Homo sapiens: one gene and its partners. The protein of the gene in region 1 interacts with the protein of each later gene in a pairwise test. Each region holds a gene or a part of one and is shown on either strand. Other genes may lie near its edges. The genes, in order: BRI3, BRI3BP and ABHD16A.

Region 1 (7,259 bases):
CCAAGTCACACATCTGTTAGTCCTTCTGAGTGAGGCTTGGCCAGAGAAGCCCGTGTCCCTTGTGGCTCTGCTGCCCTGGCCAGGCCTTCGCTGAAGCTGCCTGACTCCATCTTCCCTTTCTAGCCGTTTATGAGGAAGCATTTCCGCAGCCTGGCGGCGGATATGTCCCTGCTCCTCCCACCCTCCTGCTTCACCCCTGCCCTGCCCTGCCCTGCCCTGCCTTGCCCTGCCCAAGGCCTGGGCCTCCCTGAAGCCAGGTTCTCCCTTGCCCAGGGAGGCCAGTCATTCTTTGCTGGGGGTGTGGTTGTACCTAGGTGCAGGATGAGGTAGCTGCGCTGGGAGGCTCTCCTGGGCTGGAGCAGAGCCTGCGTCCTGCAAGCGGGGAAGGCAGGAGTGGGGAAGGCCCCTGGCCTGCACCAGGCCCCCATGAGTACTGGCTGGGCTGTCACTGGGTATTTAGTTTTGGGGGTGACCAGAGAGAGAGGAAATCCTGGAAAGGATTTCACTTTTCCTAGGGAAGGTGAAAAGAACAGCTGTGGAGGGCGGATGTCGCTCAGAGGTCCAGGGTGCGGCTCAGTGGCCAGCGTGGAGGCTGCCACGGCCCTTGGGGGGCAGAGGTGGGCTGTGGAGGGCACGGGGTGGTGACTGTGGAGCCCGGGAGGGGCTGGAGGGGAAGGAGCCTGTGACAGCCTTGGGCTTCCAGACGATGGAGGTGGAGGGGCTGCTCCCTCCTACCACCTGTGACCTGGAAGCCAGAGCTCCCCTGGTTGAGGAAGTGGCTGAGTTAGCTGGGATGGCTCTGCCCATATGTATGGCCTGTGGGCTGTCCCCGTCCTGACAGTCTTGGCCTGAGGTGTGGGGGCAGCGGATGGGCCGGAGCTTGGGCCTGGGCTGCTTGCTGGGCAGGGCTGCAGACCTCGGTGCCCAAGTGCTCCCTCAGTGGCCTCCTGAGTCTCTGACCTTGGGCTCAGCCCCCAGCTGTGGGCCAAGTGGCACTGCTGGGGTGGGTGTGGTGGCAGGCAGAGTCTCCGGGCACCTTCTCAGGCCTTTCTTCCACAGGGGAGGCGAGGGCTGGCCCTGGCCATTGGGTTTGCTGGGAATGGCCCTGGGAGGTCCTGGTGAACTGTCCCTAAGCCAGGCAGCTCCCCTGTGGGGAGTGGACACCCTGGGACAGCCAGAGCCTGGCTGGAGCTGCTTTGGGGCCACCTCGCCCTGCGCTGAGCATGGCTTCAGGCCCTCAGCCCTCTGAGGAAGCCCTGCGTCTCCCCTTTTCCTGGCGAGGCCTGGCCTTCCAGCGGGGTGGTGGTCTGGGGTTGTTCCTGGGCGTGGATGGTGCCTTGAGGCCACCATGTGCGCAGAGGGCAGCTTGGTGCCCTAGGGCCAGCCCCCTGTGACACTGCCTTTGGGGGCTACCTGGGAGGGAGAACTGGGACCTGCAGGATGGGTGCTCGTGACTGGGGAGCCCATCTGGGTTCAGATCCCAGCCACGCCTTTCCCGGCTGGGAGTCCCTGGACACACCCTCAGCTTCAGCCTCCTGTAAAGTGCCTGTGGGGACACAGGGAGGGCGAGGATGGCCTTCTCCCTGGGCAGCTCAGAGCCCTGCTGCCAGCCCCCTCTGTCCTTGGTGAGGCGGGAGCCCCGCGGCCTCTACTGTCCCAGGGCCCAGCTCTGAGTGGATGACAGTGGCATGACTGGCCACTTTCACTGCAGGACTGGAGTCGCCTTAAGGGAGTGCTCTTGGAATTAGTCAGTTCCCTAATTTCGCCAGTGGCCATGGTCCCTCCCTGGCCGCGTGGCTTATTGCACAAGAATGGGGGAGGGGCGGCTAGAGAGAGCCGGTCAGGACCAGAGCGGTTGAGAAGGTTGAAACCCACCTCACCAACTCAGGTGGGCTCTTCCGGGTTTGGAAGGGAGGAGAACTCGAGGCTGTGGGGACCGCAGGTGTTCCGGGGCAGGGGTTCCCCTTCTGCCCTCCAGTGCTGGGGACAGGACTGCCCTGCAGCTTGGGGAGTCTTGACCTAGAATCTGGATTGTGTTTCTCAGTTCAGAAGATTTGGGGTTTTAAAAAGTAAATGATGCCAACACTCCTTTTGAGGTCTAGGGCAGTACTGCAGTTAAAACTTTAATATTTCTGCAGCAAGACATGAATATTCAGATAAAGTAGGATAAATTACGACTATAAATAGCCACACACCAGTTCAGGTCACATGTTGCTGCCAGGTGAGTTTGCTGTCAAGTGACAGCGAGTTCTGCCTTCAGCGCCTCTTGGCGTTTGAAGTTGTGGGTACGGCTGTGGAATCCTGGGGGGTAGGGAATGCTGCCCACCCTTAGGCTGACCCCAGAGCCAGAGGTGAGGGCCGAACTCTCCTGGCCAGCCCTCGGGCCTTCGAAGCCCGTTCAGAGCTCTCAGGCCCAAGTGCTCGTTCTCCCGGGCCGGGGTTCTCAGGTCTGGATCACAGCCTTCTGTTGCTGGCAGAGGCCTGAGCCTCCTGGGACAGCTGGATCTGTCCAGCTCCCGGGCGGCACTGCAGGGAAACAGGCTCGCTCTCCCCAGAGACCCGGGGGCCTTGGCCCTCCTACCCTCTCTTTAAGCGGTGTGGAGGTGGGCAGGAGGGTGGGGGTTGAATGGACCAGGGATAGGGAGGCTGCCTTAGGAGGTGCCGGAGTGGGTCCCTGGACTGAGGGGCTCAGGCCAGGGTGGCACAAACGGCCCAGCCCTGTGCTCTGGCTGAGGATGGGATGGGTCTGGACAGAAATTCCGTGGGTTGGAAGGAGGGTGTTTCCCTGTGCCTGGGAGGCCGTGGGGTCAGCACATTAGGTTTGGCCCATTGTGCTGCTTGCAGCCCCGGGGCTGGGAATCAAGGTGCTGGGAAGAGAGGCGCCGGGGCCTGGGTGGGCTGGGCTGGCGCTGCTGGAAATCCTAGCACTCAGGTGGGCCGGCGCCCTGGCCCGTGGCAGTGGGAGTGCAGCAAGAGTGAGCAGCCTTCCTGCACTTCTCAGCTCTGACAGAGTAGGTGGGTTTTGGGTCTGGATGGAGAATTAGGAAGCAGGAGGGCGCTGCTGCTCTTGGACTTGGGTCCCAGGCGCGAGCAGCAGCTGCAGGTGGGAGGCTGGTGTGGGCGGGGCCCCCAGGCAGCACTGTGAAGCCCCACCCCTGCCCATTGCACCATCACACCTGGATGTCTCTGCTGCGCCCCATGGGCGGGCTCCAGCCGGGCTCCCCACCCACACCCCTTTGCCCAGCCTCCTCCCAGGCATCTCTGGGCCTTTGAACAGGCAGTCAGCTCTGCCTGCAGCCCTGCCTCTCAGCAGCTTTGGTCCTGAGGTGAGGTGCTCAGATGGTCACTGATTGGGCTGGCTGAGGGGTGCCCGGTGACACTGGGGACCACTCTGGGGGGTGCGGGCCTCTCCCCTAGAAGGATTTCTCAGCCGGTTCACCCTCCCTGTCTGCTTTTTCATGGGACATTTTCTAACCAGAATATACAGCCAGTGTGTTTCCTGGGATTTGACCGCAGATGCCAGGAAGAAAAGGGAAGAGGAAGCTCCCCTGAGAGGCCTGAGGCCACTGGCTCCCTCCAGCTCCCCCGGAACCTGTCATGGCCATCTGTGGGGACACAGCTGGTGCTTGGCCTTCCCGAGGCTCCCCCACCTCGACTGTGTGGTCTTGGGAGCTGTGGCACCTGGGGGAGAAGGTCCTGGAGCCAGGCAGGGCGTGCTGCAGTCGGCAGGGCTGGGCGGAGGTGTCCTGCCCAGTCTGGACTGGCAGGGGCAGCCCTGGGCAAGGCTGAACAAGTGTGGTGGCCTGACGACCTTCTGGGGCTTAAATAGGGGACACATTTGTAAAAGCCCACACAGGAAGTAGAAACTTTCCTGGCAGACTCTGGTCTTCTGCTTGGCTTTGCCTTGGAGCTTCATGGTGTGCCCTGCAGCCCAGCTCAGCCCCTCCACACAGACAGGTGGCGTTGTGTGAGTTTGGGAAACACTGGGTATAAGAGTGCTGCAGGACTTCTCAGAGCCTTTTGAGAACGAATGGACATAGGGACTGTAGGAGAAAAGTTTCCCAAAATCGGCTGAACAATCCCCCTTTTCCAAATGCATACCACTGTGTCTGGCTAATTTTAAATTTTTGTAGGGAGGGGTCTTTGTTGCCCAGGCTGGTTTTGAACTGCTGGCTTTAAGCGATCCGCCTCAGCTTCCCAAAGTGCTGCAGTTGCAGGCGTGAGCCACGGTGTCCTACTCCACTGGAGATTGCTGAAGGGACCTCCCTGAGTAGGCTAGAGGGAGGCAGGTGGGCATGAAGTTTTTTTCTTTTTTCTTTTTTTTTGAGACGGAGTTTTGCTCTTGTTGCCCAGGCTAGAGTGCAGTGGCACGATCTCAGCTCACTGCAACCTCTGCCTCCCAGGTTCAAGCAATTCTGTTTCAGCTTCCCGAGTAGCTGGGATTACAGGTACCCACCACTACGCCCAGCTAATTTCTGTATTTTTAGTAGAAACGCGGTTTCACCATGTTGACCAGGCTGGTCTCGAACTCCTGACCTCAGGTCATCCACCCACCTCGGCCTCCCAAAGTGCTGGGATGACAAGCATGAGCCACTGCACTTTGCAACTTTTTCTTTCAGCAGTGGAAAGCCCGACTTCAGAATATTCTGGTTTATTTTTCCATAATCCCCGGAGAAGCAGGGAACAGGTTCTGTGGGTGGGGTTTGGGCTCCCCAGCCTGCTTTGCCCAGCAGGGGTGGGGGCAGTGGCCCTCATGAGTCCAGACCCCCAGGAAGCAGCTGGAAACATCCAGGGGGCTGGGATGGGAGTAGGGTCCCCCAGATGGCCAAGTTTTCTCCCCTTAGCAAGGCACAGGTAGTCATGCTTCCCTGTCGCAGGCAGGCGGCTGCACTGCCTTGCTGTAGGCTCCCCTTCCCCCCTAAGCACCAGGTCCCATCATCTATCAGACAGCCCCACCCTGTTGTGTTTTTCTGTCCACTCACTCCAGCACTGGCTGGATGGGGGGTTTGGGCCCCCAGGAGGCCCAGAAGGAGCCCGTTGGGGTCTGCCTGTCTGGTGGGAGCAAAGCTTTTCTCATTTGGGCTGAGCTGGCTAGTGTGGTTAATTTCAGCTGTGTCCAGAACTTTCCAGAAATAGCCTAAGGAGCTGAGCTGAGCACTAGGCTTCTGGCTTCCTACTTTTAGGGCCTCTGAAACTGACAGTTGGGTTCGATGATGATTTCAGGTCACTGAACCTAGGCTCACTGGCGCAGGATTTGAGGGATGGCCTGCAGGTGTCTTTAGTCTGTTACAAACATTGAACTTTGTTGAAGAGGCGGCTTTGAGATCACATTTCTCAAAATAAGTGGCCTTCAGACATTGTGTGAACATGGCCGACTGTAGTCTCCCATTAACCCACCCCCGCTACCAAAGGAACGGAAATCGAATAAAAGCCCAAACCTGACTGGATCACTAAGCTGCTAGTTGCTCCTTTTCTAAGAGCAGATGTATGTGGCTTGTGGCACCAAAATGATCATGCCTCTCAAGGTTGTTTTTTTTTTTTTTTTTTTTTTTTTGAGACGGAGTCTCGCTCTGTCGCCCAGGCCGGACTGTGGACTGCAGTGGCACAATCTCGGCTCACTGCAAGCTCCGCTTCCTGGGTTCACGCCATTCTCCTGCCTCAGCCTCCTGAGTAGCTGGGACTACAGGCGCCCGCCACCGCGCCCGGCTAATTTTTTGTATTTTTAGTAGAGACGGGGTTTCACCTTGTTAGCCAGGATGGTCTCGATCTCCTGACCTCATGATCCACCCGCCTCGGCCTCCCAAAGTGCTGGGATTACAGGCGTGAGCCACCGCGCCCGGCCATCTCTCAAGGTTTTACTTTTTGAGATGGAGTCTCGCTCTGTCGCCCAGCCTGGAGTGTAGTGGCTTAATCTCGGCTCACTGCAACCTCTGCCTCCTGGATTCAAGCGATTCTCCTGCCTCAGCCTCCCAAGTAGCCGGGACTACAGGCATGTGCCACCACGCCTGGCAGATTTTTGTATTGTTAGTAGAGACAGGGTTTCACCGTGTTGGCCAGGCTGGTCTTGAACTCCTGAACTCAGGTGATCCACCCGCCTCCGCCTCCCACAGTGCTGGGATTACAGGCGTGAGCCACCACACACCCTGCCTTGCCTTTCAAGGTTAACTGATGAGTCCTTTCAACTGTTTTATTCTTCCCGTTTTCTTTGAATGTTACATGTAGTGATTAAATAACTATGGCCATTCCATGAACGGGTACGTGCAGCTGGTTCTTGGGGCTCTCCAGGCCAGTGGGCTGTAGCTGGGTGGTGGGGTGGGGGGCTGTTTTCTGTCACTCGCCAGAGGTCCCCATGTGACTCATGGCCACTGGTTGGTTATTGAATGCAAGGGTGGCAGGGGTGAGGGTTCTGGCTGCCCGGGTCCTTACGGTGCCACCCTCTCTGCCCGTCTCTGCTGCAGGGTTGGGGTGCTGGAGGACTGCTTCACCTTCCTGGGCATCTTCCTGGCCATCATCCTCTTCCCCTTTGGGTTCATTTGCTGTTTTGCCTTGAGGAAGCGACGATGCCCCAACTGTGGAGCCACCTTCGCTTAAAGGGAACACCAGGCCCGGCTTTCCTACACCCAGCTCTCTTTTTCTAATGTAAATGTTGTGTACAATAATTTTATTTGATTAAGCTTCAGGACTGTTTTGTAAAGCGAGGTGGGACCGATGTGGCACACGCCAGCTGCGGTTTCCCGGAGCGTGGAGAGGCAGTGCTGCTGCTCCCGCCCGAGGCTCATGACAACTCAATAAAGCACTGCTTTTATTTTTTGCAGTCTTCAATTTGAGAAAGGTGAGAAATAATGTTTTCAATAAATGAGATTCATACCATTGTTGACCTGGTGCTGCTTACTCGGTGCTTTCAGAGACCCAGGAAAGACTGGAACGACACCCCCATCGCTCCCCCGGCCAGTCCTGACCACAGTTGTATTCAGCAGGCGCTTACAGCTCAAGAAAATGTTTTCAAGTTCTGCTTTATTATTAAAGTTGTAATCCCTTGATATTTACAGAGCAGGCACCTCGGTGCCAAGGACCAGGCCATGCCCGTTCTGGTCTGGGAGGCAGAACCTGGGGTTGGGTGAGCCACGGGGTCTGCAGGTTGCATCCGAGACCCCCAGGTCCTATTCTTCCACCCCGTAACAAAACCAGAAACCTCCCCAAGGCAGAACGCCAAAGGCCAGGTGTCACCCACACCCCAGCAGTTCCCCTTAGCGCCAGAT
Region 2 (7,259 bases), on another chromosome or scaffold:
TGATCTGCCGACCTCAGCCTTCCAAAAGTGCTGGGATTACAGGCGTAAGCCACCGTGCCCAGCCTGTTTTGTGAATTTTAAATAAAGGAAAACTGGGTCTGCCAGCAACTGTAGTTTTCAGCATGCCTGGGTTTACGAATTAGAGCCAAACCTGCTTTGTGAAGTTTAATGGTATTTAAAAAAACACCCCATAGTCTTTTTTTTTTTTTTTTTCCGAGATGGAGTATTGCTTTGTCGCCCAGGCTGGAATGCAGTGGTTCAGTCTTGGCTCATGGCAACCTCTGCCGCCCAGGTTCAAACAATTCTCCTGCCTCAGCCCCCTGAGTAGCTGGGATTACAGGCGTGTGTGCCACCATGCCTGGCTAATTTTTGTATTTTTAGTAGAGATGGGGTTTCACCATGTTGGCCAGGCTGGTTTCGAACTCCTGACCTCGTAATCCGCCCTCCTCAGCCTCCCAAAGTGCTATGATTAGAGGCTTGAGCCACCGTGCCCGGCCTCCCATATTCTAATCTAGGACTTGTCTGAAATACACCTATGACCATCCTGTTTGGAGCATGGGAACAGACATGAGTTTGAATCCTAGCTGTTTCTCACTCGCTCTGTGACCCTGAGCCAGTTGCTTTACTTCTCTTTTTTTTTTGCTTTACTTCTCTTTTTTTTTTTTTTTTTTTGAGATGCAGTCTCGCTTCTTCTCCCAGGCTGGAGTGCAATGGCGAGCTCTCGGCTTACTGCAACCTCCGCCTCCCGGATTCACGAAATTCTCCTGCTTCAGCCTCCCTAGTAGCTGGGGTTACAGGCAGATGCCACCACGACCAGCTAATTTTTGTATTTTTAGTAGAGACAGGGTTTCACTGTGTTGGCCAGGCTGGTCTCGATCTCATGACTTCAGGTGATCTGCCTGCCTCGGCCTCCCAAAGTGCCGGATTTACAGACGTGAACCACCGTGCACCACCCAGTTGCTTTACTTATCTGTGTCCCATTTGTTCAGAGGAGATAAATTGGGGAATTAAAGGAGATTGGTTGGGCTGCACAATGCCAGGGACTGAATAAGCATTTAGTAAATGGTAGAATATTTCTATATGAAGGGAATTTGTCTGGTAGGAGGTAATAGACTTGTTAATTCCTTTAAAAATTATTAAGTGATGCCCTGGCATGGTGGCTCACACCTGTAATCCCAGCACTTAGGGAGGCCAAGGTGGGCAGCTCATCTGAAGTCAGGAGCTCGAGACCAGCCTGGTCAACATGGCGAAACCCTGTCTCTACTAAAAATACAAAAATTAGGCCAGGTGTGGTGGCTCACGCCTGTAATCCTAGCACTTTGGGAGGCCAAGGTGGATGGATCACCTGAGGTCAGGAGTTCAAGACCAGCCTGACCAACATGGTGAAACCCTGTCTCTACCAAATACAAAAAATTAGCCAGGCGTGGTGATGCATGCCTGTAATCCCAGCTACTTGGGAGCCTGAGGCAGGAGAATCGCTTGAACCCGGGAGGCGGCCGTTGCAGTGAGCCAAGATTGCACCGTTGCGCGCGCCAGCCTGGGCAACGAGTGAAACTCCGTCTCAAAAAAAAAAAAAAAAAATTAGCTGGGCGTGGTGGTGCACGACTGTAATCCCAGCTACTTGGGAGGCTGAGGCAGGAGAATAGATTGAGCCCGGGAGGCTGACGTTGCGGTGAGGTTGAGTCGCCCCACTGCACTCAAGCCGGGGGAACAGAGACTCCGTCTCAAAAAAAATTATTAAGCAACTTATACACATGTGTTCATAGCAACACTTTTTACAATAGCTAAAAAGTGGAAATGTCCCAAATGTCTTATCAGCTGATGAAGGGATAAAATGTGATGTGTCTGTATAATGAAATATGATTCAGCCATAAAAAGGAATGAAGTATTGCTATATGCTACAACTTGGACGAACCTTGAATAAATGAGAGAAGCCAGTCACGAAAGGGCACACATTATATGATTCCATTTACAGCATATGAAATATCTGGAATAGGAAGATCCGTAGAGACAGAAAGCAGATGGGTGGTTGCCAGGGGCTGGGGGAGGGAGCAATGGGGGAATTACTGCTTAATTGATCTAGGGTTTCCTTTTGGGGTGATGACAGATTGTGGAACTAGATAATAATGGTTGCATGATATTGTGAACGTGCTCATGCCACTGAATTGTACACTTTAAAATGGTTAAAATGGCCAACTTTATGTGTATATGACTACAGTTTTTTAAAAAAATTGGCCTGGTGCAGTGGCTCACATCTGTAATCCCACCACTTTGGGAGGCCTAGGTGGGAGGATTGCTTGAGCCCAGGAGTTTGAGACCAGCCTGGGCAACATAGTGAGACCCCATCTCTACGAAAAACCAAAACCTTTGGCTAGGCATGGTGGCGCACACCTGTGGTCCCAGCTACTTGGGAGGTTGCATAGGGAGGATCGCTTGATCCTGGGAGGTTGAGACTACAGTGAGCTGTGATCACACCACTGTACTCCAGCCTCAGGGACAGCACAAAACTCTTTGTCTCCAAAAAAAACAAACAAATGAAAAATTTCAAGCACCTACTGTATGTGGAGAAAATGATTCCTCTCAGGCAGAATATAGCTGGACTGATGTGGTGGAAACATCCTGAATGCCAGGTCGAGAAACTAGTACTTTTTTCCCTTGCTCCTTGGTCGTAGTTGCATGGAATACAATTTCATGTAGTTCTGAAGGTTAAGAAACTAACTCCACTTCCCACTACCGACCCGTCTACCACCCCCTTCCCCGAAGCAGCCAGATATTCTGAACATGTATAAATATATGGATCTATAGATCTGCTCCCTATTGTTGGTTTTTGTTTATTTTGCACTATGCGCACTGTTTTGTATTTTTATTTTATTTTTCCCTGAAACAGAGTCTCCCTCTGTCGCCCAGGCTGGAGTGCAGTAGCTCAATCTTGGCTCACTGCAGTCTCTACCTCCCGGGCTCAAATGATCCTCCTGCATCAGCCTCTCAAGTAGCTGGGATTACAGGTCTGCACCGCCATGCCCTGCTAAGTTTTTTATTTTTTATTTTTATTTATTTATTTATTTATTTTTCTTGAGACGGAGTCTCCCTCTGTCGCCCAGGCTGGAGTGCAGTGGCGCAATTTCGGCTCACTGCAAGCTCCACCTCCTGGGTTCATGCCATTCTTCTGCTTCAGCCTCCCAAGTGGCTGGGACTACAGGCGCCTGCCACCATGCCCAGCTAATTTTTTTGTGTGTTTTTAGTAGAGACGGGGTTTCACTGTGTTCGCCAGGATGGTCTCGATTTCCTGACCTCGTGATCCGCCCGCCTCGGCCTCCCAAAGTGCTGGGATTACAGGTGTGAGACACCCGACCCAGCCTCATTAAACTTTTTGGCTTTATTATGTATGAGACAGATGGTCTTTTCATTTATTCAGAATCCATCGATATGTTCTGGGAACTGCCTTTTGGTTTTTCTTTTTTTTTTTTTTTTTTGCCGTTCTATTGAGCTGTTGGGTTCTTTTGTTTTTGCTTTTTTTTTTTTTTTGTAAAGAGGTTTGCATTTTTTGCTGTTTGCAAGAAAGTATTTTGAGCAAAATAACTTTGACACTTTCCAGTCCTTTTTCCCCTACCAACATTTTAACAGCTTTTTTGAGGTGTAATTGCACTACACCTCAATAGACTGTGCGTATTTAAAGTGTACAGGTTGACACCTTTTGACATACACACTTGTGAAAAATTACCACAGTTAAGATAAAGTTTCATATGATTTTTTTTTTTTTTTTTTTTTTTGAGAGGGAGTCTCGCTCTGCCACCCAGGCTGGAGTGCAGTGGCGCAATCTCGGCTCACTGCAAGCTCTGCCTCCCGGGTTCACACCTTTCCCCTGCCTCAGCCTCCCGAGTAGCTGGGACTACAGACGCCCACCACCACGCCCGGCTAATTTTTTGTATTTTTAGTAGAGACGGGGTTTCACCATGTTAGCCAGGATGGTCTCGATCTCCTGACCTCATGATTGCCTGCCTCGGCCTCCCAAAGTGCTGGGATTACAGGCGTGAGCCACCACGCCCAGCCTGTTTCCTATAATTTTTTATGTTGATAATTTTTCAAAGTACTAAAATGCTGAAAGAACAGAACAAGGAATAGCTGCAAACATCTCCCCTAAAGTCACCAGTTCTTACATTTCCCCTCAAACTTTTTTCTCTGCAAACACATCCGATAGACACATACACACATGCACACACATTTATTTTTATTTTTTGGCAGGATCATTTGAAAGTTAGTTGCAGACGTCTTAATACTTTTTCCTACAGAACCACAATACCATTGTCTCAGCCAAGAAACTTAAATATAGTACAGTATTTTGTAACAGATAGTCCATATTCAAATTGTCTTTATAGCTCATAAAAAATCCAACACCCAGTCAAGGACTGCTCATGCATTTAGTGTTCATGTCTCTAGTCTGTCAGAGTTTCCTCACTTTTGGTGGAGGAAGGGACTTAATTATGAATTTTTTTTTATTTTTATTTTTTTTTGAGACGGAGTCTTGCTCTGTCACCCAGGCTGGAGTGCAGTGGCGCGATCTCGGCCCACTGCAAGCTCCACCTCCTGTGTTCACGCCATTCTCCTGCCTCAGCCTCCCAAATAGCTGGGACCAAGGGTGCCCGCCATCACGCCCGGCTAATTTTTTTTGTATTTTTAGTAGAGATGGGGTTTCACCGTGTTAGCCAGGATAGTCTGGATCTCCTGACCTCGTGATCTGCCCGGCTCGGCCTCCCAAAGTGCTGGGATTACAGGCATGAGCCACCGCACCCGGCCCCAATTATGCATTTTTTTCTTTTAGACAAGCTCTCACTCTGTAGCCCAGAATGGAGTGCAGTGGCGCAGTCTCGGCTCGGTGCAACCTCTGCCTCCTGGGTTCAAGCGATCCTCCCACCTTAACCTCCTGAGTAGCTGGGCTTACAAGCATGTGCCACCATGCCTATTTATTTATTTATTGTATTTTTCGTAGAGACAGGATTTCTCCTCGAAATCCCTGTGTTGCCCAGGCTGGTCTCTTGACTCCTGGGCTCATGCGATCCTCCCGCCTTGGCCTCCCAAAGTGCTGGGATTATAGGCGTGAGCCACTTCGCCTGGCCCAGTAAGGGACTTTTACAGCATTGACATTTCTGAAGATCACAGACTAAATGTCTTTTTTTTTTTTGAGCTATAATTCATATACCATACAGTTTATTCATTGAAAGCTCAGCGGTTTGTAGTATATTCACAGTGCTGTACAGCTGTCACTACAGTCAGTTTTAGAACATTTGCATTACCCCAAAAAGAAACTCTGTACCCATTAGCAGTCACTACTTTTTTCCTTTGCCCCAACTCCCAGCCTTAAGCAACTGCCAATCTGCTTTCTGTCTCTATTTCTGAGCCTACTGTGGGCTTTTCATAGGAGTGGAGTCCTGTACAGTCTGGCCTTTTGTGTCTGGCTTCTTTCACTTAGCCTCATGTTTTCAAGGTTCATCCATACTGCAGGATCAATACTTTATTCCTCTTTATGGCTTTTTATTTACCTGATCATCAACTGATGCACATTTCGGTTTATGTCACTTTTTGTCTATTGTGAATGGATGCTGCTGTGAATATCCATGTGCAAATATTTGTGTGGGCATTGTTTCCAGTATTTTGCGGTGCATACCTAGGAGTCCAGTTGCTGGGTCATACAGGAACTTTTTGTTTAACACTTTGGGGAACCGTCACCCTTTTCCAAGGCAGATGTACCGTTTTACCTGCCTACCAGCATGTGGGGCCTGGTTTCCCCACATCCTTGTCAGCACTTGCTATGGTCTACCTTTTTAATTCTAGCCATCTTGGCAGACGTGAAGTAGTATTGCTGTGGTTTTGACAGTCCAGAACTGGTTTTTTTTTTTGTTTTGTTTTTTTTTTTTTTGAGACAGAGTCTCGCTCTGTTGCCAGGCTGGAGTGCAGTGGCACAATCTCTGCTCACTGCAACCTCCGCCTCCGGGGTTCACGCCATTCTCCTGCCTCAGCCTCCCGAGTAGCTGGGACTACAGGCACCCGCCACCACGCCCAGCTAATTTTTTGTATTTTTAGTACAGACAGAGTTTCACTGTGTTAGCCAGGATGGTCTCGATCTCCTGACCTCGTGATCCACTCACCTTGGCCTCCCAAAGTGCTGGGATTACAGGCGTGAGCCACCACACCTGGCCCAGAACTGTCTTTTGAAATGTCCCACAGTGTGTATTGTATTATTCTGATTATCTCCTCCGGGTTAGGCTCAGACTTAGCTTTCATGGCAAGAATTCTGCAGAAGGCATCATGTGTCCTTGCTGAGGCAGTACCATATCGGGGCTCGTGGTGTCTGTTTGTGCCATCGCATTCTCGTTGGTTGACGCTGAATTTGATCTCTGGGTTGAGGCTGGGCAGGCCCACTGCGCTGGGGGTGCCCTTTCCCCTCTGTGGTTCATACGTGGTCTGTATGTTATGTTCCAGCATTTTCCGTTCATCTGGCTTTTGCATTTCTGTGTGTTCTTCAGATGCTTGGGAAACCTCTGAATGGCAGAATCTCCCGTCCCCTCTCCCTGGCTTGCTTATCAAGATGCCTTTGCCCTCATGGCCTGATTTTCCATAGGACCCGTTTGCATGTGCCTGAGGGTGATGGAGGTAAAGCGAGATTAGGATGCAGGAAGGCCATTGTCACCCAACCCCGGTGTTGGATGTCCCCGGGTGTTGGATGTCCCCCGCCTGACTGCTGCAAGAAGAGCGCTGATGAAATCCCAGGCTTGAAGCAATCTTGTTCCCTCCCATGGAGGCGATGGCTGGGCCTTGTTTGTCTGAGTCCTCAGGCATCCACAGTTTGCTCACCTGGTCCCCTTATTTCAACTTTCCATTCTGAAAATTGTCCAACATAACCAAAGGTAGGGAGAGTAGAGTGAACCCTTGTTCACCCAGGTCTTCCCATGTAGCAACTTTCTGCCATTCTGGTTACTTCTTTCCTTCCTAAATTTTTTTGAGGGTGCCTGGAATAATATTTTAAAGCTAATCCAATACATTAGTTCACCTTTGCATATTTCAGTTAGCATCTTTAACAATAAAAATTTTGTGAAAATCAAAACCACAATACCGGCCGGGCATGGTGGCTCATGCCTGTAATCCCAGCACTTTGGGAGGCCGAGGCGGGTGGGTCACTAGAGGTCAGGAGTTTGAGACTAGCCTGGCCAACATAGTGAAACCCCATCTCTACTAAAAATATAAAAATTAGCTGGGCATGGTGG
Region 3 (7,129 bases), on another chromosome or scaffold:
TCCGGAGCTGGCCAGTCGACTTCCACTGGGAAGAACCCAGCAGCCGGTGAGGCCCCAGTTCTTTTGCTGTATCTCTCCCCTTAGAACCATTCCAGAAAATCTCTGCTCTGCCCTCCCACCTCCATGCCCTCTCAGGTCACAGTGCCTGCCTTCCAATGCCATTATGTCGTTCCTAGACCCCACTGTTCTCCAGACCTCAGACATCCAGCTTGCTGCTCCTGACCCTATCCTTCCCTGCATCTTTCCCTTCCTCAGGAAGGAGTCTCGAGGGGGCCCTTCCCGCCGGGGTGTGGCCCTGCTTCGCCCAGAGCCCCTGCACCGGGGGACAGCAGACACCCTCCTCAACCGGGTTAAGAAGCTGCCTTGTCAGATCACCAGGTGGGAAACAGCAGCGAGGAGAGGCCCACTGGGGTGGAGGGGCCATTTCAGGAGTGCTCTGGGAGTGGGCGCTCCATTGTAAAATAGCTGTCACTCATTGGGCCTAGTGCTGTATGGTTTGTGTAGATCATTTATGGCAAAGTCATTTTTATCCATATTTATGTTTGAAGAAAAGAGGCTCAGAGAGGTCTGGAGTCTCAAATGTAGTAAGTAAAGAACTGGGATATGAACAAAAGCTCCTTCAGTGAGGCTGAAAAGGAGCAGTGGGGGTGGGGTGGGGGTGGGGAGGACACACACTTGTAGCTAGGGCAGGCTCTGGTAGCATCTGTGTACCCATCGTGGCCCCTCTGCCCTGTTGTTATTCCACCTTGGCTCCGGGCCCCTGTGTGCCTCAGTGTCTGCACCTGTGATGAACCTGCCCTGCAAGGTTGCTGAGGAGATTAAGTAAGGTAACATGTTCTGAAGGGCTCCTGCCTTGCCTGGGTGCTTGAGAGCACATGGTAAATCCCAAATAAAGCTCAGTCGTGGGTACTGATGATGTCAGAAGGAACGGAAATAACCACCTATATCTTATAGTGGAACAGACACTGGGAATTTTCTTTTGCTGGGAGTTAGGAGGCAGCTTCTAGAATACCAAGGAACAGGGTGGACTTAGTGGTTGGTTGTTGACAGTGTGCTAATTAGTCAGGGAGGCAAGCCATATTTGAGGTTTTGAATTATAACCATCATTTTTTAAAGCATTATTTATTTGGGGACCTTTAATATGTTGTACTTATATTTTAACAGAATCATAATCTGATGATAACTTTGCATTTACTTATTATGTATAGACAGTTACATCATAAAACTCTCAGAATTCTGTACATACAGGATATGTGTGCACTGAGCCACAATATAAAATGTTTATCTTACAAAGGTTGCAGTAAGAAAAGTTTGCAAAACACTAGCCTGGTACATATTTCATTAAGGCTTGAAAGAGGAAAGTAAAGCTGTGAAGGTCAGGGGTAAAGCAGGCCTTACAGTCTGTGAGTGCTAGGGCTGGGATGGTCCCCAGCACAGTCCCCAGGCCTCAACAGGGTTGGGGTTTGTTAACCTGTGTTCCCCACAGCTACCTGGTGGCGCACACCCTAGGGCGCCGGATGCTGTATCCAGGCTCTGTGTACCTGCTGCAGAAGGCCCTCATGCCTGTGCTGCTGCAGGGCCAGGCCCGACTGGTGGAAGAGGTGAGGCTTCCCTGCCCGCACATCCCCTAAAGCCCTCCCCTCTCACCCCCACCCACCCCGCCCCACCCCTGTGATGTGGCCTCCTGACCCTTGCATCTTGGCCATTGCGTCTTCCGTACTCAGTGTAATGGGCGCCGGGCAAAGCTGCTGGCCTGTGATGGCAATGAGATTGACACCATGTTTGTGGACCGGCGGGGGACAGCTGAGCCCCAGGGACAGAAGCTGGTAAGAGGGAGCAGAGAGCCCAGAGGTGGGGTGAGTGTGAGGAAGGCAGTAGAGGTCTGGGGACCCCAATGCTATAGCACCTCCCTGAAGGAACCACTACTGGGGATAATCTCATGTCCTAGCTCCACGCTAAAGACCTTGTGATGTAGTGAAACCCTGTGATAGAGAAACAGATGAAGTAGGAGAGACGTTCAAGGACGAGAAACTAATATTAATAGTTACCACTTTGACAGCACTTCACACTTATATATATTTAATTCTCATATATATATGAAGCATATATATTTAATTCTCAAAAGAATCCCGTGAGATAGGTACTGCTTATATTAGCCCATTTTACAGGAGATGAAACTGGGGCACAGAAAACCTTTCCTGGACCTCACAGTAAGTGGTAGAGCTGGTATTTGGACCCAGGCAGCCTGGCCTCAAAGTCTCCTACCTCCATGAAGCAGCCGTGGAAAGAGCGCTAAGCCAGGAGTCTAGGGAGCTGGGTTCTAGTCCTGGCTCTGCCCATCTGTTATGAGAGTTCATGCAAATCCCACCATTCGTGGGTTTCAGCTTGGGGCGCCATGGCATTACAGTTTATCTGACCATAAGACTGGAGCTCAGAGAGGGATAGGGAGAGCAATCAGCATACCACACAATAGCAATGGTCACAGAAGATAACAGACCCGAAAACGAGAAAGGAAAAACATCTCCATAGTCCCCTTCCTGAAAGAGATCCAGCTGGTAATCTTCCAAGGAAAAGACATGGCTGGGTGGTCGAGCAGGTCAGCCTCTGAGGAGTATTTGTAATCCCTTTGCTTCTCCTCTTATGGACCCTGTGGAATGAGAAGCTTCCATTCCCCTTGGAGAAAACAGAAACCTGCCCTTTCCTCTTCCCTGCAAAGCTCTTCATGGGCTGCCCTCCCTGCCCAAAGGGAGTTTTTCAGTCCCAACTTGGCCCCCCAGCCCTTCCTTCCTGCCTCCTTCCTAGGTGATCTGCTGTGAGGGGAATGCTGGGTTTTATGAGGTGGGCTGCGTCTCCACGCCCCTGGAAGGTAGGACGGTGACTCAGCCTCCTTATCTCCGCCCTTTGAAAGGGAATGTCCCTGCCTCCCACACTGACCTGACCTCCCCTGGCCTCTGCTTTCTCTGGGTGAGGTTTTGAGTCTCTCAGCTTTAGGGAAAAGTCCACTCGCCATTTGCTTTGATAACCTTACATCCCTCCCCTGGCCTGTGTCCCTAGCTATTATGCTTTTCATTCTGTTCCATTCCCCCACCACACACCCCACACAATCACATGCTGCTCCCTGTGCTGCCTCAGAACCTCTGGTGTCATCTCCTATTTCTGGGAAGGCTTGGAGTTATTTGCATCTAAGCTGGGGGGTACTTCTGCTCTTCCTTCCCCCAGGGATGGAGAAAGGGCTGTGGGCCACAAGGTCTCAGTCCCTCCTCCCCCTGTGTTACAGCTGGATATTCAGTCCTGGGCTGGAATCATCCAGGCTTTGCTGGAAGCACGGTGAGACCATCTCAGGAATCCCTTCCTTTTCCTGAATTATGTCTGTTTCCCTCTGGTCAGCCATTGGAGGGAGGAGAGGGGCTGTGGATTTCTTGAAGGCGTCCCACTCACCTGAGGGCTGGGGTCTAGGAGGTTGTGAAGGCAGCATTGGGAGCCATGCCCCCATCCCCACAGTGCGGGGCTAGCAGGAGAGGAGGAGGTAGATCTCATTGTACACATCCGTCTTCTGGAGAGAACAACCTCTCCTACCATCCCTTCCTTCTACACCTTCTCTGCCTGTCATAGGTGGCTGCAGGAGGGGTCCACGTTGGGAGGGACAGGTGAGCTGGCCTTTGGTGCTGACACACTCCTGACTTTGCCCTTTCTCCTGCAGGGGGTGCCATTCCCGCAGAATGAGGCTAATGCCATGGATGTGGTGGTCCAGTTTGCCATCCACCGCCTAGGCTTCCAGCCCCAGGACATCATCATCTACGCCTGGTCCATCGGCGGCTTCACTGGTACCAGCCTCCCTCCCATCCCCCACTGTAGACACATTCATGACCACCCAGCCCCACCCGGGAGAGGTGGGGAAATGGGGTGGGGTGGAGGCTCAAGGAAGAAGAGAGAGGAAGTAGAATCTCTGAGTGGGCCTGGAAGAAGCTATCCTATTTGCATACACTTCACCTTTCCTTCCCCTCTTGTGCCCAGTCATTAAAAGGAAAAGCAGACCCAGGTCCTGGGTGGGGAGATCAGGGAAAGTGAATGTTTCCTGCCCATTATCTTCAGTGCACTATCTCCAGTGTTCTATCCCCATCCTCTCCAGATAGTTCCCTAACCAAGTGAAGTAGGTTAAGAAAAAAACAAGGGATAACATAGGGGGAATGGGGTTGGCCTATAGGGTCAGTGGGATGAGAGCATGGGTGGTGGGGAGAAAGGAGCCTTTCTCAGTTCTTACTCTTCTTCCCTGCCCTGGTACCAGCCACGTGGGCAGCCATGTCCTACCCAGATGTTAGTGCCATGATCCTGGATGCCTCCTTTGATGACCTGGTGCCCTTGGCCTTGAAGGTCATGCCAGACAGCTGGAGTGAGTGCAGCTCCCAGGCCTGCCCTTCCTGGGAAGGGGTGGGCTGGAACTGGGAACTGTTCTGAGATGGCTCCCTTTTCTTGGGTGGGGAGTAAGTCGCCCCATTGTTGGAAGCAGGAGGACTCCTTTGTCTGGGGGCCTCAGTTTTCTTTCTCCGTGAATAGTGAGGACCTTTATGTTGGGCAAGGGCTTTGTCTCTGCCATCCCTTCACCTTTATCCCACTCTAGGGGGCCTGGTGACCAGGACCGTGAGGCAGCATCTCAATCTAAACAACGCGGAGCAGCTGTGCAGGTGAGGGCCGGCCAGCGTCCGGCATTGAACACCTGCCCCCCATACAGCTCTGCTGGGCGCTCAAACCCTGAAACTAGTACTAAAGTGCAAGTTGGTAAAAGGCCACTGGCTCACATCCTGAGTGACCCTGCCACCACCTCAACTGGCCTAACCCCTCCCAGGTCCCCTGGGACTCTGGACCACCTCAGGATCTGGCAACCAAAGGGTTAAGGCCTGGCACGGCAGGGGTCTCCCAGCAGGGCCAGACTGAACCATGCCCCTTAAATAATCCCCTCTCACCCCTGAGTGAAGGGCTAGGTCAAGGGCTGTGCTATAGCAAGGGGAGGGTAAGAATGCTACCAGTGCAGGGATAGGGGTGGGCCAGTTGTCACCCGTCTCCCTCTGAGCTCTCCCTTCCCACTGCTCTGTTCTCTGAAGATACCAGGGTCCTGTACTGCTGATCCGGAGAACCAAGGATGAGATCATCACCACCACGTGAGTGCGTGGGAATCTCGGCCCTCAGGAACCCCAGAGATGGCCAGGAACTTGTCCCTTCTACCTCTGCCCACCAGAAACCTGGGTATCTAGACCCTTCCTCCTAACCTCCAGCCCCTCCAGGGTACATTCTTCTCACCCCCAGGGTTCCTGAGGACATCATGTCCAACCGAGGCAATGACCTCCTGCTGAAGCTCCTGCAGCATCGGTGAGAGCCAGGGTGTGTGCGCGCTGGGGGCAGTGTACACACACAGATACTGATACCAGCACAGGGAAGGAGGGAGGAAGGTTCAGGGATGGTGAATGAAAAAAAATCAGCCCTGACCTGTCCTGGCACTTCCTCCGTAGGTATCCCCGGGTGATGGCAGAGGAGGGTCTTCGAGTGGTGAGGCAGTGGTTGGAGGCCTCCTCACAGCTGGAGGAAGGTGAGAAGGGATCCAGTGAGGCTTGGGGCGGGGGCCCAGCAAGGTCAGGTTGCTGACTGGCTGTCATCTCTCTCCCTGACCAGCCTCAATTTATAGCCGATGGGAGGTGGAAGAGGACTGGTGTCTGTCTGTCCTCCGCTCCTACCAGGCAGAACACGGGCCCGACTTCCCCTGGAGCGTGGGTAAGGAGCTCCTGGGGCAGGAGAGAGGGTGGGAAGGGCCTAGGAAGGGGATGAATACCCAGATGTGTGGCCTATTTTGAGCGCCTCCTCTCTGCAGGGGAGGACATGAGTGCAGATGGACGGCGGCAGCTGGCTTTGTTTCTGGTGAGCTAAGGAGTGGGAAGTGGGAAGGGTTCTTGAATGGCCAGGGCTCACATAGGGGGACTGGGGATACCCTATAAGCATTGGAAGTGGCAGCTTTTGTAGAGTGGGTGGTGGATGCGGAAGTGGAGGGTGGGGAGGGAGTCCAGTGGCTGCCCCTCCCAACAGTGCTCTGTACCCCACCTGTCCCACCTCCTTTCCTCAGGCTCGGAAGCATCTGCACAACTTTGAGGCCACTCACTGCACCCCACTCCCAGCCCAGAACTTCCAGATGCCCTGGCACCTCTAGGGACCAACTGGGACTCATTATGGAAGAATGGGGTGAGAGGAGACATGAGGAAAGACCCTCTTATTTGTGATTCTCTGTGTTCATGTTGCTGTTTATAGTTTGTGGAAAGTGGGGGACCATCCCCCTTCTCACCACTGTTCCTCTTGCACGTTTCCCCTCATTCATGTGGCTGTACTTAACCTTCTCCAACATACATCCTGCATTACATGAATGGATTATTCCTAATAATTAATAAAAAGGTATTTTTTCTACTATCAGGCTAATTGTATAACTTCTCAAGTGTCCAGGGAGCCAGGGGCAGGTAGTGGGGAGAGCAGAGGCCCCAAAGAGCTGGGCTTTGGGAAACCCTAACTCTAGACAATCTAGCTAATCTAACCCTTCCCATCTCTGTGTCCCCCTAGGCCTTCAGCCCCTAACCTGAGCTTTCCTCAGGCAGCAGGTCCCCAAACCTCCCCGGTCCCTGATGTGCCTACTGTTATCACAACTGTGCAGCCTCCCTGGCCCCTCCCGCCTCCTTCTTCAGTTCTTCCTGCATACAACCACCCCAGGAGCCCATGGTTGCCCCCTCCTGCTTACGGCTCATGAGCTTTCTAGGATCCGATTTCACCTACCCAGTGCTTCTGCTGGTTTCCAGGTTCAACCTGCATGGTGTTACTAGCAGTACCCCCAATTTTCATTGCTCACCTCTTGTTATCTTGGTGAAGAGTGAGGAAGGGCCTGCTCCCCACGTCTTATGCAGCAAACCCTGCACACCCACCTTGCCATGTCATCAAGTCTCTGTCCTCACAGCCTTTTTGCAGTTCAACAAACACAGGCCCTGCCAGGGACGGAGGGCCAGGTGCCAAGGACTCATGTCTTCTCAGAGCCATACTTTGCCTTTTGGACGGCTCTGTTAGGAGAAGATGCTTAGGTTGTACCTGAGGAAATTGGTTCCCT

Evidence for each region.
Region 2: the proteins of BRI3 (region 1) and BRI3BP interact in binary tests that used the Homo sapiens proteins (3 or more experiments, as listed by UniProt).
Region 3: the proteins of BRI3 (region 1) and ABHD16A interact in binary tests that used the Homo sapiens proteins (3 or more experiments, as listed by UniProt).

Annotation. Positions count from the first base shown.
Region 1 is NC_000007.14:98,284,653-98,291,911, forward strand, and holds the end of BRI3 (membrane protein BRI3), read left to right. Parts: intron 1-6,458; coding exon 6,459-6,591; coding exon of another isoform or gene 6,592-6,638; 3' UTR 6,639-6,893; downstream 6,894-7,259. UniProt on the Homo sapiens protein: Participates in tumor necrosis factor-alpha (TNF)-induced cell death. May be a target of Wnt/beta-catenin signaling in the liver.
Region 2 is NC_000012.12:124,996,562-125,003,820, forward strand, and holds part of BRI3BP (BRI3-binding protein precursor), read left to right. Parts: intron 1-7,259. UniProt on the Homo sapiens protein: Involved in tumorigenesis and may function by stabilizing p53/TP53.
Region 3 is NC_000006.12:31,686,276-31,693,404, reverse strand, and holds the end of ABHD16A (phosphatidylserine lipase ABHD16A), read left to right. Parts: coding exon 1-46; intron 47-255; coding exon 256-378; intron 379-1,486; coding exon 1,487-1,601; intron 1,602-1,724; coding exon 1,725-1,826; intron 1,827-2,088; exon of another isoform or gene 2,089-2,647; intron 2,648-2,802; coding exon 2,803-2,866; intron 2,867-3,277; coding exon 3,278-3,327; intron 3,328-3,438; exon of another isoform or gene 3,439-3,700; coding exon 3,701-3,824; intron 3,825-4,285; coding exon 4,286-4,390; intron 4,391-4,618; coding exon 4,619-4,682; intron 4,683-5,099; coding exon 5,100-5,156; intron 5,157-5,301; coding exon 5,302-5,364; intron 5,365-5,504; coding exon 5,505-5,581; intron 5,582-5,664; coding exon 5,665-5,763; intron 5,764-5,860; coding exon 5,861-5,907; intron 5,908-6,109; coding exon 6,110-6,193; 3' UTR 6,194-6,450; downstream 6,451-7,129. UniProt on the Homo sapiens protein: Phosphatidylserine (PS) lipase that mediates the hydrolysis of phosphatidylserine to generate lysophosphatidylserine (LPS). LPS constitutes a class of signaling lipids that regulates immunological and neurological processes.